Linked DNA regions of Homo sapiens: region 1 is linked to region 2. Evidence: fine-mapped expression QTL. A gene starts in region 2. The other region holds a variant in brackets. All regions are shown on one strand. Distances are from middle to middle. Region 1 has its middle 190 kb from the start of GXYLT1. Region 2 holds the start of PDZRN4 (PDZ domain containing ring finger 4).

Region 1 (5,387 bases), 770 kb before region 2:
TTTTTGTACAGGCAGGGTTTCACCATGCTTCCCAAGCTGGTCTTGAACTCCTGAGCTCAAGCAATTCTCCTGCCTCAGGATCCCAGAGTTCTGGGATTATGGGTGTGAGCCACTGCACCCAGCCTTACATATATTATTTTTACTCTTCACTCAACTTAGTTAGATGACACTCTTATTTCCATTTTATCGATGAGAAATCAGAGAGGTTAAGTGACTTGTTGATGCTACATAGTAAGGAACTGAGGGGGCTTCACACCTGGGTCTACAGTTTCCACAGCGTGAGCCTTTACTGTGTTCCCTCCCACATGGTAGGTCTTCAACAATGGTAGATATCCTGCTCCTTCCATGAAGGTTTGTAACCGAGGGTCTGAAAGAAATGATTTCTTCTTATTAAATAAGTACAGTTAGATAGAAGGAATAAGATCCAGTATTTGGTAGCACAACAGGGTGACTACAGTTAACAATAATTTATTGTATATTTTAAAATAACTAAAATAATGGAATTGGAATGTTCTTAACATAGAGAAATGATAAATGCTTGAGGTGATAGACACCTCAATGGCTCTGATTTGATCATTACACATTGTATGCCTGTATCAAAACAGCACATGCACCCAACAAATACATACAACTATTATGTACCTATAATAACTAAAAATACATGTTTTAAAAGGAAGGATTATTGCATAGTTTACACATTCATTACATATTTGTCTTGCAAAAAAAGATTATAGATTTATGACTTCCAGGGAAAATAAAAGCTTACAACCTTCTATACTGACACTCTATGAAGCTGAGTGAGGGATTCTGGATGTTATTAGTCACATGATCCTAATGACATTGTTCAGAATTGAAGGTTCTTGCTATATCCTTAAATATTCCCTTTCATTTTTTTTAAAAAAAAAGGTTTCTATTTTGATATAATTTGAGCTTACAGAAAATTCACAAGAATAGTACAAGGAACTTCTATATACCTTTTATCCACATTTGCCAAGTTTATACACGCATATTTTTCTCCACTTGCTTTATAATTCTGTGTATATAATTATATACATATATGTGTGTAATCCACAGTGCAATGATTTAATCCACATCCACAGTGTGTGCTGTTGTGATACAGGCATATAATGTGTAGTGACCAAATCAGGGTAAATGGAGTATTTTACATACATATATGTGTGTATATAAAATATAGATAGAATTTTTTTCCTGCACCACTTCAGAGTAAGTTATAAGACCTCAGATACATCATGTTCCTTTAAGATTATATGTGGTAGTGTGTCTTTCCTTTGAACAAGGAAACCTCTGACAATAACCACGGTATAATGATCAAAATCAAGAGTTGTAACATTGACACAGTACAATGATTTAATCGACAGTCCATATTCAAATATTGTCCATTCTCCAAGATCAGTCTAGGATCACTCATTATTTTTAATTGTCATGTCTCTTTACTGTCATTCAGTCTGGAACAATTCTTCAGCCTTTGTGTTTTTGACTTTGAAATTTTGCATAGTACAGGCCAGTTATTTTGTAGAATATTGCTCAATTGACTTGTGTGATATTTCCTTATGCTTAGATTTGGGTTACAGATGTGTGGCAAGAAAACCATATAGGTGATGTTGTGGGCCAGGCACGCTGACTCACGCCTGTAATCCCAGCACTTTGGGAAGCCGAGGCGGGCAGATCACCTGAGGTCAGGAGTTTGAGACCAGCCTGGCTAACATGGTGAAACACTGTCTCTACTAAAAATACAAAAAAATTAGCTGGGCACGGTGGTGTGTGCCTATAATCCCAGCTGCTCGGGAGGCTGAGGCAAGAGAATTGCTTGAACCCAGTAGTGGAGGTTACAGTGAGCTGAGAACGTGCCACTGCACTCCAGCCTGGGCGACAGAGAGGGACTCAGTTTAAAACAAAACAAAACAAAACAAAACAAAACAAAACAAAACAAACAAACAAACAACAACAACAAAGAAGTGATGTTTGTTGTGTCTTTCTCAGTGCATTATTGTATTGGGATGCCTATGATGTTGATTTGTTCCAATTTCAGTATTGTTAAACTTTATCACTTGCTTAAGATGACGTCTGCAAGATTTTTCCAATGAAAGTTACTATTTTTTCTTTATAATTAATAAGTAATTTATGGGGAGATGCTTTGAGATTTTGTACATATCTTGCTCTTCATCAAATTGGTTTGCTTACCAATTTTAGCATTCGTTAGTGATTTTCTAACACCCATCCTTTATTTTATATGCATTAGCATTCTACTGTCAGAAAATGTTTTCCCTTGTCCTCCATTAATCTAACTAATTATTTATTTTTATCAGTATGGACTCATGGATTCTTATTTTAGTCAATGAGTCATAATTCATTACTATCACTATTTATTTTGTTGCTTTAAATGTCTTGCATGTGGTCAGTGGAAATCTGAAGCTGGCTTTTGTGTCTTTTGGGCATGTTTCCATCATTTTTTTT[G/TG]GAACACTTTTGTATTTTCTCGCACAAGATGTTCCAGGCTCATTTTGTACTTATTCTGCCATAACCCTGAAATCAATCTTTTTTTTCCCACAGAGCTTTGGTTCTTTTTAGGGGAGAATGCTAAATAAAAACCAAGCTCTGGCAGGTGTTAATACCGGAGTGCAATTTACTTCTAGTGTAAGTAGCTCTCAGTGTACACAGCTAGGAAACACACATGCACACACACATATTTATAGTTATTTCTCTTCTACTTATCATCTATGTGTTAGAAATCCTGGGTTATTTCTCATACCTCCAATTCCAACTCAACATCATAGGCTTTTTATTGCAGCCTTCCCCTTTCCATATTTGTAACTTTCATCTCCAACAGTGAAAAACCTGGCTGCCACTATCCAAAATATTTACTAATTTATTCAGACTTAGAAACTAGTGCTAGAATTCTTAACTCATACTATTGCCAAAAGTAAACCTATGTACTAGAGTTCAATCTTTATTTATAATTATTTTGAGGATAAAAATTGTATACAATCACAGGCATAAATCTGGAGTCCGATTTGCTGAGTTTTGACAAATGCATGCACCTGGATGTCCTGCATTCCTATGAAGATATAGACATTTAAAAAATCATTCCAAAAAGTTCACTTGCACCCCTTTCTAGTCAATTTTTCCAGAATAAACTAATTTACACATTTGTTTTACTATAGATTAGTTTGCTTTTTAAGTGGAATCATAGAGTATGTATATATTTTTATATTTCATTTTCAATTCCTCTACAATTTAACTGTGCTTCTTTCAGCATTTTTATAGTGTAGCTCTACATAATTATTTCTAAATCTGAATGCTCATTTTCATATTTACATGAAACTCTGCTCTTATTTAGCAGGATTGCTAAAGCAATTGTAGTGAGAGAAATTGTCTTACTATAAAAGAATGCTAGAAAAGAATGGAATCCTGCTGATCTGAAACTAAAAACTCTGGGAATTAATTTTTATGAGACCCAGTATAAAATTGGTTGCCTAAATGAGATTATCATCATACCACTGAGCTACTGATCATCATTTAGATTCCTCAAAATCCACATCAATTCATCAGGCATATGTTCACTTATTCTGATATTCATTCACTCATTTAGAAGTATTTATTCTAAATACTTCTGACCACATCCTAGATACTGTTCCAACTATTGGAGACCTGGCAGTGAAAAACTAGGTAATGTTCCCCATTCTGCTGGAGCTTCATGTATTCTATTTCCAGTGCTCTTCATTTTCTTTTTTTTTTTTTTTTTGAGACGGAGTCTAGCTCTGTTGCCCAGGCTGGAGGGCAGTGGCATGATCTCGGCTCACTGCAAGCTCCGCCTCCCAGGTTCATGCCATTGTCCTGCCTCAGCCTCCTGAATATCGGGGACTACAGGTGCCCGCCACCACGCCTGGCTAATTTTTTGTATTTTTAGTAGAGACGGGGTTTCACCGTGTTAGCCAGGATGGTCTTGATCTCCTGACCTCGTGATCCACCCGCCTCGGCCTCCCAAAGTCCTGGGATTACAGGTGTGAGCCACCGTGCCCGGCCTATTTTCTTTTTTTTCTTTTTGTTTTTTAATGTAGATTGAGGTTTCAGTCTGATATTTTTATGGACTGAATGTTCGTGTCCCATGAAGTTCATATGTTGAAGCCTTAACCCCCAATGTGATAATATTTGGAGATGGGGTCTTTGGGAGGTAATCAGATCATGAGGGTGGGGCCCTGGTCTGGTAAGATTGCTGTCTTATAAAAAGAGACCCCAGAGAGTCTGCTTTCTTCTCTTTACCATGTGAGGACACAGCAAGAAGGCAGCCGTCTGCAAGCCAGGGAGATGGACCTCTCCAGATCCAGAACATGCCGGCATCCTCATCACAAACTTCTAACCTCCAGAACGGTGAGAAAATAAATCAATGTTGTTTATGCCACGTAGTCTGTAGTATTTTGTTATGGCAGCCTGAACAGACTAAGACAGATATCATACTTCCTTCAGTACTTCTCATAGAGTTAAGTATGCAGGCAATGGCTTCCCTCAGTTTTTATTTATCTGAGAAAGTATTTCTCCTTCATTTTTGAAGGAGACTTTTGCTGGGTGTAGAATTCTGGTTGGCATTTAAAAATTTCCAGCACTTTAAAGATGTCACCCCCTTGTCTTCTGTTTTGTACGGTTTCCGATGAGAAGTTGGCTACAATTCTTATCTTTGTTCCTCTGTATGTAACATGTCTTTTTCTTCTCTGGTTCCTTCAAGATTTTTTCTTTTTCTTTTCTTTTCAGTAATTTGAACGTGATATACCTCAGAGTAGTATATAAGGGAAATAGAAGCCTCATCTTCCTTGTATGTGGCAAGAGAATTCCACCAAGAAGCTTTCTGCTGTTTGATATATGTTGGTCCCTTGCCTGTGGTGCCCTCCCTAACCCCTAGTCCTCATCAAATCCTATTTAGGTATTAGGAGCTAGCTCAAGTCCTGAGTTTGTGAGACTAGTAGATACCATGCTGTATTTTCTTGACCTACAAACCTTTTCTCCTTTGAACTAGACACATTTTAGACTAAACTTGTTTTTTATTCTGTAAAATGATTTTAAAATGCTTTACCATCCACAATCTTCTTAGACATATTCTCTTTACTTCTAAAAATTAGTCCAGGATTTAAGCAGTCTTTTTTTTCCTGTTTGTTTTTTAGTACATTGTCAAGTAAAACCTTACAGGTCTTTCCTCTATTAGTATAATTAATTTATTCAGCTCATACGATTAACTTAATTAGGTTGTTTTCCTTTTTAATAGGTGAGCAGGAAGGTGAGAGGAGGAAGGCAGGTAAGGGCTGGGTGGCTTTGTCAGTGTGTAGCCTGCACAGTCACACTGGGCCCACACTAAGAGGGATCCTGTGCTTGGTTTTATG
Region 2 (5,387 bases):
ATTGAAAACAGATTTCTGGTTAAACCTTGGAGGTATCTTTATTTTTCCCTCCATTACAGAAAAGTAAAATATAAATTATCAATAGTGTAAAATTTTTATTTTGTAAAGTCTTAAGGAATTTAAGAAACACTGGAACTATTTATAAATTATAGTCATAACATTCATGTTGCTGTTGTAATGCAGGATCTGTTAGGCTACTGTAGTCCTAATTTTAAATAATATTCCTATTTGGTTTTGCATAATTCCTGCAGAATAAAAAAATAAGGGTTTGTGCTAGGTAAAGTAGTATGTATTTTTTCCTGCTGGCCAAATAATAGTAAAACAAATATGAATTATAGCTACAATGTTTATTAGTAAAGACTAACTTACACATAGGATGAATTAGTGCTGGACTAGGTGGGTTTATTCATGGTTGTAGATGTTATTAACCTTTACTTGGAAACTATTTCTGAATGATAACATTCAGAACATATGCATCATCATCACTGCTATCAGCATCAAGATATTTTCCCAGGAGCTTTTCCCAGGCAATGCGCAGAGCAGCCCCTACTGGTAGTAGAAAAACACTTCTGAGGAACACATAGAAGGTTTTGGCTAGTCTGCAAATCATGGGCAGTTTTTCTCACTTCTCAGAATCATAGCTTGACTTGTTGCATGGACTTTTCTGTAATATTATTCTAGCTGTTCCTCCTTTCCTTCAACCATTGGTTTCCTACGACCTTGAAACCTGGACTGGTAATACAAAGCTTCTATCTGTGCTTTTCCCCGGGTCCTCCCGTTTTGTAAATTTACCTGTATATATGCGTATATGTATATGCATATATGAACTAGAGAAATACTCCTTGAAACCGGTCGTTTAATACACAACGTGCTTCCATTCATCAAGGTAGAAACATTTTAGTCCCTCTCACTTCAATTTTCTCTTTTACGTTCAAGACGGGCGCTTCTAAACTCAGTGCCTGAGTTAGAGGCAGTGTGGAGCAGCCAGTCCCAAATGGGAATCTTTCTGGGTTGCTCCTCCCCGGGAGTGCTGAAGAATGAAAACAGCTCCTTGAATGGTGCGCAAATTCTGCTAAATCCCTGCTCACCATGGCAGCGACCAACAATGTCAGACACTGTGCAGAAGTCCTCCAGGAGAGAAGTAACAGCTTTATAAACAAGCCTCTTCACACGGGATGCTGCAAAGAGGCTTGTTTATTCGGTATGAAAGCCGGCGGGAGGACCAGGAGCGCAGTTCGGGGCCAGCAGCTTAGACAAAGAAGGGAAACAACCGCTGCCTGGGGGCTCGCAGGGCCGGTCTGACCACAGATGGAGGTTCTCGGACTGGACTTCCCAGGTCGCACACACACAATCTCAATCTCTCTCTCTCTCTCCACCAATAATGAGATCCCGAGGCAAGGAAGGCTTATTTAGGGAAAGTCAGAGTGATGAAATGAACTCTGCAAGTCTAAGAAACCCCATCTCTCAACTCCTGAGGCTGTCCTGGCCCCAACGTGCCTCACAGTCCCCAACTTAATAGAAGGCAGTTGATTCAGGCAGTGGCAGCGCAAGTGTCATCAACGCTGACACCAGTCCCAGGTGTGCGTGCGCGGCTGCCAGGGCCGCGGGGATGCTGGTGGCCGCGGGAGAGGAAAGGCTGGGCCGGGAAAGTCTTCGCTTTCTGTCTTTCCTTCTCGGATTTGCTTCAGGCACGGGACAAGTGCTCAAAAAATAGGCAGAGACGGTGGGCAGGAGGGTGAAAGATGGAAAACGAGAGTCTGGATGGAAAATGAGTTTTCACAATTCCTACTTTCCCGGGGGAAAGTTAGAATCGAATCTGTTTAACTCTTTCCAATCGTAATATAATCAGAAAAGGGACAATCCTTAACTTCGACGCCAATCCATTCGTAAGATAATGACAGGAAAGTATGATCAGGGTGTGGATGTTTCCTGCTGCATAGTGAGGAAGGATGCCCAATTCCAAAGGAATCCTGAAGCGTCAGAAAGAACCGCTCCTTTTCCCACCCCAATCGACCATGCCCGCGGTGCCCACCCCCCTTTGCTTACCCTGCGGTGGCCGCCACCGAGGTCGCCGACGAAGTTGCGGACGTGAGCCATGTATTGGGTGAACTTCTCCTGGTACCTGCGCGCCGTGAGCTGCACCTCGCCCTGCAGCGCCCAGAGCTGCGCCAGCAGCGCCTTCTCGCGCCGCCTCCAGGCGAGGACCCGAGGCCCGGGTCCCCGCCCGCGGCCCCAGCGGCCGCCCGGCGGCCCCCCGCGCGCGCCCCCGCCCCGGCCAGCCCTGGGTGTCGGACCGCAGCCCCCCCGCGCGGGCACCTCACCACCGCCCAGCCCCGAAGCGCAGCCCCCGCGGCTGCGGAGCCGGCGGGCAGGGCCGAAGTCGCAGTGCTCGACGTGCGCCTCCAGCTCGTGCAGCCTGACCGAGTGGCCGCAGCCGCGGGCGCGGTAGTCGCACTGGACTCGCAGCTTCTGGATGAGGCTGCGCAGCGGCAGCACCCGGTACAGCTCGCCGGGCGCCAAGGGCTGGCACTGCAGCGGGCACCGGCGCCTCCGCACCGCCCAGGGCAACAGGCAGCTGGCGCAGAAGACGTGCCCGCACGGCGTGCACAGGGGCTCTTCAAGCACCTGGCCGCACAGTTTGCACTCCAGAGCCGGGTCCACGGCTTCTGCGAAGCGCTCCAGGGCAAAGCCCATGTTAGGGATGGGGAAGAAAGGGGGAGCGAAAGCAGAGTCCGTCTTCTCCGAGCCCCCCTGCCTTCCCCGGGCCACCCCCGGGGCAGCCGTCTCGCGGCGGCGGCAGTGGAGGGAGGTGGCGGGTGGGAGGTGTGATCTCACTGTTTGTTTGGCTTGAAGTTTTCAGGCTCCTGCTAGGTCCCCTGATTTCGCCCGTATTGACGCTAATAGAAGTAACCTCCAGAGACCCCCGCCTCCTTCGTTGCCCTGCGATTTATGTTCTTTCAAATTTTGGCCGCCCAGCTTACAATGGTCCTTGGGAACACTGTGTTCTCCTTCGCCTGAACAGTGAACTTCAAGCATCGAGGCGCCTCGCCCTGGGCAGGGCTGCTGATGGGTAAAGCGCTAATGTTGAGAAACAACTTTTAAATTCACCACAATGTAAGCTTCGGGAGAGCAGAATCTTTTTGTCTGTCTGGTTTTCCGCTGAATGCCCATGGCCCGCCCGGCGTCGAGTCTATCTCCAATATGTTTGAAATCGAAGCACTTTTGTTCTTTCACATCAAAACTACAAAATCAGAAGTTAGGAAACTGTGACCTTAGGAAATCACTATAAGGAAAATAACACTAGGAAATCCACAGGGCCAGGCTTCTCAAACCGTGATCCAGAAATCAGGTGAGTTAGAATGGCGCGATCCTTGACCTAGCAGCAAAGATGGGGAAAAAGTCAAGGGCCCGCCTCAGGACACTGCCTTCTTAGGGAGCCCATGAACAGCCATGCAAGGCCTCCTCCCGAGTGAGGAAGCTGGGATTCTGAGTCTGACTCCAGGTTCAGTTGCCACAGCATCCATCTTCTACTTCCACGGGCGTTTTACTACTGGGGACGGGAATGTGATCATTTGGGAACCTGGAAGGGAAAATTAAAGGGAAGGATGATGAAAGAAAGCAGTGAAATAACATATAAATAAAATCTTAGTGGCTGCTTCCTTCTACTTACCCTGAATGAACCCTTTGGATCCAAATTGCCTCCCCTCCTAGTTTGACTCCTCAAATTGTGTAGCATGACAAGCCGTCCTGAAAACACGCAGTAGGGCGTCATTCCAAACCCTTCTTACTCCACTTCCTTTACCATCTTCTGAACCTTAGGAATGCAGAGATCCTGTCACCTGGCTGCATATCACTTACTGCCATTATCCTGAAGCTGCCACCAGATGCTTGGGTGGGTTTTATAAATTAATCATTGATGATTCCTTGCTGCCAGTTGAGCCTTGTTCCTGGAAAGCTTGTAATTCTCTATGACACCAAATGGCATCAGTTGGAATTGATGAGAACAGCTCCAGACTTTGTCTTTTAAATCCTTGGAGCTAACTGAAGAATTAGCAAAGACTAATAATAGAGGCTAATAACCTTCTGAGCCTTCTTGCTGTTTGAAAGATGAGATTTTGTTAGTTGTTCAATAACCAGTGATGATTGGTGTGCTAGATGTTTGATATGCTTTTAAACTCTTTTTCAAAATAAGATGCTATATTTCTCATTTAATATATATAGATTCATATGTGATAAAGTAACATTTGCCCCTATGTTCCAAATTTCCCCCCTCTTTCGACCTGTCTTTCTACAAATAAATAAGCAAACAATGAATTACTGATTAAATAAGAAATCATTTAATATTAACAGCATGAAAATATTTTTGTGAATTGCATAAACTGGAAATACATGTTCTAGAATTTATTAAAATACTTCTGGGCAGGAGAAATCTATTCCTTTTTTTAGCTATAGAAAAAGTTGTGACTTACAGCTATAAACATTTATAATTATAACCATGCATATACAGTTATAGCTATAGCTTGACATTTATTGGTTTTACAGTAAACACAATGACACTGACAGCATTTTTAAAAAGAGAGAGAAGAGATGGAATCCAAAAATATTATTTTGAGACATGAGACTGTTAGGACCATGAGACTTCAGTTACTTGGAAAAAAAAAAAGTTCATATGATATCCTTGGTATACCCATGCAATTCCTATAGCAAAAGTAAGGAGCATGAGCAAATTATGTTATGACTAATTCCAGGATGCATAACATTTTTATTATTAAAGTAAAGCAGATGTCAAAAACGTTGTCCACAGAGAATAGGAAGTTCCAAAATGAGGGCATGTAAAGTGAAACTGAGTAATGAAATAGGCCAAACAGAACAGGAAAATCTTTTACGTAATAAAATAAAAGCCTAAGCATTTCCAAAAGAGCTAAGTATAAAGAAAAAACATGACAAGAATTGAACTCTAAGAGAATGGACACACCCAAGTGAACCTCATAAACTTTTGCCATCTGGAAACATTGTGGCATAAGTCTGTGACATCAGTTGAGTCAGATAGTCTCGTTTCACTTCCCAGACTGTAAAATATTTTTCTACATATTAGCAAAATTGTAATATCAGTGAAAAGCTTGAGTGAGCTAGGAATATGGAGCCTAATTAAATGGAAGTAATTAGCTTGGGTAAACAAAGAAAGCACTTTAAATGAGTTTAATATATGCACAAATATTTCAGCAAAACAGACCCAGTAATATTTAGATGCTTTTTGGCAAATTAGACAAATTAACACCTTGCATCTTTAGCTTGGGCATACTCTTATGTTTTCACTGATCATAATTGTCTATCATCTAAACATCCCTGGATAGTGAAAATTGCAGGCTGAATACTAACACTTGGGG

Evidence for each region. PIP is the estimated chance that this variant, and not a neighbour inherited with it, causes the effect.
Region 1: its variant is the best candidate, but not a certain one, in a credible set for the expression of PDZRN4 in aorta (GTEx, PIP 0.62).

Annotation. Positions count from the first base shown.
Region 1 is chr12:41,953,663-41,959,049 of GRCh38, reverse strand. No RefSeq gene overlaps it. Among named protein-coding and RNA genes, the nearest start is that of GXYLT1, 190 kb to the left of the region's middle. The variant G/TG (reference allele first, on the strand shown) is at 2,476.
Region 2 is chr12:41,185,763-41,191,149 of GRCh38, reverse strand. PDZRN4 (PDZ domain containing ring finger 4) reads right to left here and starts at 2,830. Exons shown (of 10, transcript NM_001164595.2): 1 at 2,047-2,830. The coding sequence starts at 2,694. It overlaps LOC124903069 (a long non-coding RNA gene), which reads left to right and starts at 2,918. Exons shown (of 2, transcript XR_007063563.1): 1 at 2,918-3,349; 2 at 3,820-5,387.